3 separate regions of the Homo sapiens genome follow, and all the other regions are linked to region 2. Evidence: fine-mapped expression QTL. A gene starts in region 2. Each other region holds a variant in brackets. All regions are shown on one strand. Distances are between the middles of the regions. Region 1 has its middle 34 kb from the start of CNTF. Region 2 holds the start of LPXN (leupaxin). Region 3 has its middle 5.4 kb from the start of OR5B12.

Region 1 (2,769 bases), 81 kb after region 2:
GAAAGGTTTGCTTTCTGCTTAGTAGAAATGGATCTCCCTGGTGATCTCATGTTTCATTCTCAGTTTTGGCCATAGTGAACAATTCTACCTTTTATTTTCACCTGACAGAGCTTCAAGTTGTTGAGTAATATTCAACCAATTATTGCTATACAATAATTGTTATTATACTTCAAACAGCCCATTCTATGTCAAATACTGTGCTAGACATTTAAGATATTATACAGTTTAATCTTTAAAACCACCTGTTGATGCAGGTCCTATTCTCATTTTAGAGTTGATGAAACTGAGGCTGAGAGGCAATAAGTAACTTGCTAGTAAGTCATAGAGTTGGGGTCCCATCCAGACTGGTGCCACTTCAGCCCTCATGTTCTCTACTCTCATGCTTCACATTTACAATCTAAGATGATTAAAGAGCTGAGAAAGGGGTGTGGAGGGAAAAGATTGGTGAAAGGAAAACATACATCCTAAGATGTTTCGTATGTTGGAGAGAATGTGATGTTTTAAAAGAAATGATTGTATTGTTTATAGCTGAACTTGACTTTCTTTAGGTCTAGGATGAAGAAGCTACTGGATTTGGAAGTGGGTGGTACAGGAAGTGGTTCATTGCCATGTGGGACCTGCGCTCCTGGCCATTCTGCAGGTAGCACAATGGTTACAAGTGCAGCCCTGGAGTCAGACTGTGGGGTTTGAATCCTGGCTTTGCTACTCACTTATTAACCATAAGTCCTTGGGCAGCTTGTTTAATTTTATTTTGCTTCAATTCCCTAATCTTTAAAATGGGAACGTGATAGTACTTCCTGTTGTAAGCATTAAATGAGATAAAACATTTAAAATGATATCTGGCACATGGTAAGTGTACCATAAATGCCAGCAATTATTATTGTTTCTGCCCCAAGTTAGTGGCAAAGCAAGGTAGGTTTGGAAACTCTAATTCAGTGCTATTTATTTATTTATTTATTTAGAGACTGAGTCTCACTCTATTGCCCTGGCTGGATTGCAGTGGCACAATCTTGGCTCACTGCAACCTCCACTTCCTGGGTTCAAGTGATTCTCTTGCTTCAGCCTCCCTAGTAGCTAGGATTACCTCCCGCCACCATGTCTGGCTAATTTTTGTATTTTTAGTAGAGACAGGGTTTCACCATGTTGGACAGGCTGGTCTCGAACTCCTGACCTCAAGTGATCCCCCTGCCTTGGCCTCCCAAAGTGCTGGGATTACAGGTGTGAGCCACAGCACCTGGCCTTTTTTCTTCTCTATCTTTGGTAGGCAAATAGATACATTGCACAAAGTATTGTTTGTTTCAGCTGCCATATTCTGATATTTTGAAAAGCATTTAATTGTGGTTAAAAAACACAGAGAAGTTAGCATCTTAACCAGTTTTAAGGGTACCTTGCTATAGTGTTAAGCATGTTCACATTGTTGTGCAATCTCCAGAGCACTTTCCATTTTGCAAAACTGAAATTCCATACCTGTTAAGCAACAACACCGCATTCCCTCCCTCCAGCCCCCGGCAACAAATATTCTACTTTCTGTCCCTATGGATTTGACTACTCTAGGTAGCTCATATAAGTGGAATCACACAGTACTTGTCTTTTTGTGATTGACTTATTTCAGTTAGCATAGTGGCCTCAAGGTTCATCCATGCTGAAGCATAGGTCAGAATTTGCTTCCATTTCAAGGCTAAATCATTTTTGTATGTAGATACTACATTTTGTTTAGCCATTCATCCATCTATGGACACTTGGATTGCTTCCAGTTTTGGC[T/C]ACTGAGAATAATGCTGCCATGAATATGAGTGTATAAGTATCTTCTTGATACTCTGCTTTTTATTCTTGGGGGTTTATACCCAGAAGTGGAGTTGCTGGGCCATGTGGTAGTTCTATTTTTAATTTCTTGAGGAGCCTCTGTACTGTTTTCCTTAGTGGCTGCATCATTTCACATTCCCATTAACAGTGCACAAGGGTTTCCATTTCTCTACATTCTCACCAATACTTCTTTTCTGTTGTTTTGTTTTTCAATAGTAACCATCTTATTGGGTGTGAGATGGTATCTCATTGTAGTTTTGATCTGCATTTCCCTGATGATTAGTGATGTTAAGCATCTTTTCGTGTGCTTATTGGTCGTTTGAGAACAAAGAAGATATACAAATAACCAATAAGTACATAAAAAAATGGGTTCTTTGTCTATTTTTAAAGTCAGGTTGTTTTGTTTTTTGGTAGTAAGCGTTTAAATATTCTGAATATTAACCCATTATTAGATACGTGATTTGAAAATATTTTCTCCCATTTTGTGGGTTGTCTTTTCACTATCGATTGTGTCTGTTGATGCATAGAACTTAAAATTTTTGATATAGTCCAATTTGTTTTGTTTTGTTGTTGATGTTGCCTGTGCTTCAACTATCATTTCCAAGAAATCATCACCAAATTTAATGGCATGAACTGAGTCTAGTGTTTTTATCCTCAAATGTGGAGGTAGGTTCCATTGGGCATGAGAAACAACAACTTAAGCTTCAGAAACCCTTGACAGGTTGCAAAGTGCTTTTACCCACATTGGATTATTTAAACTTCAAAGCAACAATCAGTTCATGAATGATGAAACAGAGACCCAAGGAACCTAAGTGAGAGTTACTAAAAAATACCCAGGGGAAAAGCGTTGGGCAGAGTTATTGTTTAGGATTATTAATCAATGGTGGACCTGGGCCTGTAGTCCAATATTCAAAGTTGTTTCAATATCATACACGAGTTTTGGGAGCCTCTTAAATCTGCAAATTGAAA
Region 2 (2,769 bases):
ATTGGACAGACACCAGAACCAATAAACTTCTAAAATAGGAGAGCACCTTGTTGCTTAGTTTTGGTGTCAGGTGTTCCCGACAGTGACATTGAAAAAGTTATTTTGTTTTTCTTAGTTTTCTCATCTGAAAAAGAAGTGGATAACACCTATTTCAGAGGGTTGCTGCAGACACTAAAATGATTAACATATGTAAAAATGTCTAGTTTTTGCTTGATTTACTAAATAAGTATTAGTTTCCTTTTGAATTATTTGCCATGAAAGCCTTTCGGTGTCCCCTCCATCCCCCCCAAAAAAAAGAAAGAGAAAAAGAAAAAAGGCCCTAGCACTACTAGAACTCAAGCAGAAATTCACATTCTCCCAGCACTCACGTAGGATAAGAAATAGAATTCTACCCCAAGTCCAAAAAAGAGTCTGGCCCAATATCAAAATAGACTTTACCTCCAAAGCAGTTTGATATTTATTAAACACTACCTTTTTCTCTTCATTAACATCTCTTGCCTCCTGGTAATTTGCCCTTTACTTTTCCTCTGTTTCTCCAGCTTTGAAATCACACGCCATTTTTTTTAAGACAATGTAACAATGTGCAAGATATTTTTTGTTGTTGTTTTTTGCACTTTTGACATACCCTATCCCCAAACACACCCCAAACCAGGACACTGTGGAATTAATACAGTTTGGAAATTGGGTATAGTTTAGTGACTCAGTGTTAGTTAAGATGCTGGCAACAGATGTTGGCAAAGGCTATGGAATGAGTCCCAAGAATGACAAACCTTACATTACTCCAAAGGTTTGAAATCCAGGATTTCTCTGGTTAATATGGTTAATAGTTCCACTGCTGGTTTTAATTGTCTTAGAGTGGAAGGAGGTGTCATATTTTCAGGCCCTAGTAATCTCTTCCTTCAGAATTCTTCTGAATAAAAAGCTTAGCAACAAAATCACTAGAGTTAGAGTGCTATGCCTTCTTGATTTAATACTAAAACATGGAACAAATGAAACCACTCTGGCCTTTTTCCAACCTCTACAGATCCCTCATTCTTATACTTCTAGTCCGTCTTTTCTTCCTCATAACACCCCAATTCCCTTTTTGCTCTTTCTTTTCCTCCTCAAATCATATCTCTGCATTGTCTCGCTATGTGGCCACCCTTGATCTCCAGTGACCTCCAAAGGGCAAAACGCCCATAACAAGACAACAACTGCAGTAACAATCCAGTCCAAAAGTATTTGCCAAGAGTTTATTCCGCGGTTAGCACCAAACTCTCCATCTATTTTGCCACTGCAAACAGTGAACCCATAGTTCCCCAAAACAATCATAGTTCCTCATGCTTCACTCTTGGCAGGGCTGAGGACAGGAAAGAAGTGAAAATAAAATCTTCCATTACTACCCTCAGTCTAGCCAGAAGTATACCCCACCACACAAGGAGATGGCAGCCAAGTCTTCACTCCCTCAGAGTTTCTCCTCAGGCTCCTCACTCACCTAACTCTTCCATTGTCCTACATCCAAGATGCTCTTGTCTCACAGGCCGTGAGGAACAGCTTTGGCATGTGCTGAAGAAGAGGACCGCAAAGGAACTGGATGAGACAGCATAAGGCAGCCTCTATAAACCTTTTTGGTTCCTGTATTTGCTTAGCACTTCCTCTCTTTTGATTTGGTGAGCTTTTTTTTTTTTTTCATAGGTTACACAGTTTTAAAAATGTGACTGACATAGAAAGGTAGATAGTAAGATTTGCATTATGGCAGTGCATTGGCCAGGGTGATAAAGATTCAAAATTAATTTTGCAAAATTTGAGGACCTACTCTGTGCCAGGATTCATCTTGGATTCATGGGAATGGCAGACTTATACTTGCGTTTTTTCCAAGTGTAGGTACCCCACTCTGAGCATCTTTCTTTTTTCTTTTTTTTTTTTCTGTGAAGCTGGGAGACACAGAGGCATAGTCTCCTTCTTAAAATTTGCATCAGAGTTGACCAGCATCCATTTCATTTTGTTGTCTTATTTATTCAGAAATTATGGTTATCTGCTTTCCTGCATGGAACGTAAATCCTTAAAAGTAGGGCAGAAGTGGATTCATGCTTGGATTCTCAGGGCCTGGTTTACTCAGTGGTCCCAAAAGCAAACATCTATAGGGTGGTCACAAAGAAGGAAGCCAGGTTTGACACCAGATGTTAAACTGTGTGCATCTCAATTAAGCATAATCCCTGCCTAGATACACTGCCTTATAGCAATTTCTTTGGAAAGTAACACTGAGGTTAACTCTTCACCTTTTTTACCACTGTGATTTATTCACCTTGAATTAAACATTTACAAAAGGCCTACTATAAAAAAGCAATACGTAAGGAACTATAATTATGGCCCTGTGAAATAGATTTTTTCCCCCTTTTTACCAATGGTGAAATAGGTTCATGTAATAGCAACTTGCTAAGATAATTAATTGGTAGCTTTGCTACTTACTATAATTGCAAAGTCTGGGATCTTTCCTCTACAACACCGTAGCCTTCTTTACTTTTTTTAAGACAAGCTCTCTGTCACCCAGGCTGGCGTGCAAAGGTACTATCATAGTTCAGTGTAACCTCCAACTCGAACTCCTGAACTCAAGCGATTTGCCCTTCTCAGCTTCTGGAGTAGCTGGGACCAGAGGTGCATCCCATCACGCCACCAGGTTAGCTTAAAAGCTTTATTTTTATTTTTTATGTAGAGGGTGGTCTCCCTATGTTGCCCAGGCTGGTCTGGAAGTTCTGGGCTCAAGGGATCCTCCCACTTTGGCATCCAAAA
Region 3 (2,769 bases), 130 kb before region 2:
CTGTAACAATTTGAACAGGGCAAGAAGCCTCCTGGCCAGAACTTTGGGGAGGGCGCAAATCTGGTGTGCAGATTCCACAGGCAGGGGAACAACCAAACACCTTTCTTTCGAAGATGGGAGGCAGGTAGCCTGGGGCGAGTTTTCAAGCCCGTTTCCCCCACCACCTAAAAATAGACTCAGGGCTGCTGGGGTGGGGCATGGTGGGAGTGAGACTGGTCTTTCAGTTTGTGTGGGAGCTGGGTGAGGCCTGTGACTGCCGGCTTTCCCTGACTTCCCTAACAACTTGCATGACTCAGCAAAGGCTGCCATAATCCTCCTAGGTACACAATTCCAATAAGCTGAGATATCTCACCCCCATCCCCTACAGAAGCCACAGCAAGACCCGCCCAAGGAGAGTCTGAGCTCAGATACCCCTAGCCCTGCCCCACCTGATGGTTTTTCCCTACCCACTGTGGTAGCTGAAGGGCATATAATCTTGGGAGTTCTAGGGGCCCACCTACCACTAGTTCTTCTCCATACTACCACAACTGATGCTCTCTGGAAAGTGTCACCTCCTGGCAGAAGGCCAAAAAGCACAAAAATAGAGCATTAAACTACTAAAGCTAAGAATCCTCACAGAGTCCATTTCACCGCCCCGCCACCCCCACCCCAGCCCCCAGCTACTTGCACTGGAAGGTGCTGGTATCCTTGGCTGAGAGATCCATAGATGGTTCACATCACAGGACCCTGTGCAGACAACCCCCAGTAGCAGCCCAGAGCCAGGTAGACTAACTGGTTGGCTAGACCTAGAAGAAAGACAACAATCACAGCAGCTCAGCTCACAGGAAACCACATCCATAGGAAAAGAGGGAGAATACTATATCAAGGGAACAACCCATGGGACAAAAGAATCTGAACAACAGCCTTGAGCCCTAGACCTTCCCTCTGACAGAAACTACCCAAATGAGAAGGAACCAGGAAACCAGCCCTGATAATATGCTCCAAAAATCCAAACAAAATACTCCCAAAAAATCACACTAATTCACCAATAATAGATTCAAATGAAGAAGAAATCCTTGATTACCTGAAAAAAAATTCAGGAGGTTAGTTATTAAGGTAATCAAGGAGGCAC[C/A]AGAGAAAGGCGAAGCCCAATGCAAGGAAATCCAAAAAACGATACAAGAAGTGAAGGGAGAAATACACAAGGAAGTAGATAGCTTAAAGAAAAAACAATCAAATTTCAGGAAACATTGGATACATTTTTTAGAAATGTGAAATGCTCTGGAAAGTCTCAGCAATAGAATTGAACAAGTAGAAGAAAGATCCAGAGCTCAAAGACAAGGTCTTTGAATTAACCCAATCCAACAAAGACAAAAAAAAAAGAGTGAGAAAATATAAATAAAGCATCCAAGAAGTCTGAGATTATGTTAAACGACCAAACATAAGAATAATTGGTGTTCATTAGGAGGAAGAGAATTCTAAAAGCTTGGAAAACATATTTGGGGGAATAATTGAGGAAAAATTCCCTGGCCTTGCTAGAGACCTAGACATCCAAATACAAGAAACACAGAGAACACCTGGGAAATTCATCTCAAAAAGATCATCAGCTAGGTACATTGTCATCAGGTTATCCAAAGTTAAGATGAAGGAAAGAATCTGAAGAGCTGTGAGACAGAAACATCAGGTAACGTATAAAGGAAAACCCATCAGATTAACAGCAAATTTCTCAGCAGAAACCCTACAAGCTAGAAGGGATTGGGGCCCTGTCTTCAGCCTCCTCAAACACAATTATCAGCCAAGAATTTTGTATCCAGTGAAACTAAGCATCATATATGAAGGAAAGATACAGTCTTTTTCAAACAAATGATGAGAGAATTCACTATTACCAAACCACCACTAAAAGAACCGCCAAAAGGAGATCTAAATCTTGAAACAAATCCTGGAAACACATGAAAATAGCATAAATCACACAGAACCTATAAAACAAAAATACAAGTGAAAAAGCAAAAACAAAAAACAAAGCACACAGGCAACAAAGAGCACGATTAATGCAATGATACCTCACATTTCAATACTAACATTGAACAGAACCACAGAATGGATAAGAACTCCCTGATCAACTATCTGCTGCCTTCAGGAGACCAAGCTAACACATAAGGACTCACATAAACTTACATAACTCACATAAACTTAAAGTAAAGGGGTGGAAAAAGGCATTTCATGCAAATGGACACCAAAAGAATCAATATTGTGAAAATGACCATTCTGCCAAAAAAATCTACAAATTCAATGCAATCCCATAAAAATACCACCATCATTCTTCACAGAATTAGAAAAAAAAAATTCTAAAATTCATATGGATCCAAAACAGTGCCTGCATAACCAAAGCAAGACTAAGCAAAAAGAACAAATCTGGAGGCATACCTGATTTCAAACTATACTATAAGGCCATAGTCAAAAAACAGCATGGTACTGGTATAAAAACAGGCACATAGACCAATGGAACAGAATAGAGAACCCAGAAATAAACCCAAATACTTACAGCCAACTAATTTTCAACAAAGCAAACAAAAACATAAAGTGGGGAAAGGACACTCTTTTCAACAAGTGGTGTTGGGATAACTGGCTAGCCACATGTATGAGAATGAAACTGGATCCTCATCTCTCACCTTATACAAAATTCAACTCAAGATGGATTAAAGACTTAAGCCTAATACCTGAAACTTTTTACTTAGGAATATACCTAACCAAGGAGGTGAAAGACCTCTACAAGGAAAACTACAAATCACTGCC

Evidence for each region.
Region 1: its variant is fine-mapped to the expression of LPXN in whole blood (TOPMed, PIP above 0.99).
Region 3: its variant is fine-mapped to the expression of LPXN in blood mononuclear cells (TOPMed, PIP above 0.99).

Annotation. Positions count from the first base shown.
Region 1 is chr11:58,655,105-58,657,873 of GRCh38, forward strand. No RefSeq gene overlaps it. Among named protein-coding and RNA genes, the nearest start is that of CNTF, 34 kb to the left of the region's middle. The variant T/C (reference allele first, on the strand shown) is at 1,762.
Region 2 is chr11:58,574,286-58,577,054 of GRCh38, forward strand. LPXN (leupaxin) reads right to left here and starts at 1,571. Exons shown (of 9, transcript NM_004811.3): 1 at 1,475-1,571. The coding sequence starts at 1,487. RefSeq lists enhancers at 1,444-1,503, 1,514-1,563.
Region 3 is chr11:58,446,265-58,449,033 of GRCh38, forward strand. No RefSeq gene overlaps it. Among named protein-coding and RNA genes, the nearest start is that of OR5B12, 5.4 kb to the left of the region's middle. The variant C/A (reference allele first, on the strand shown) is at 1,112.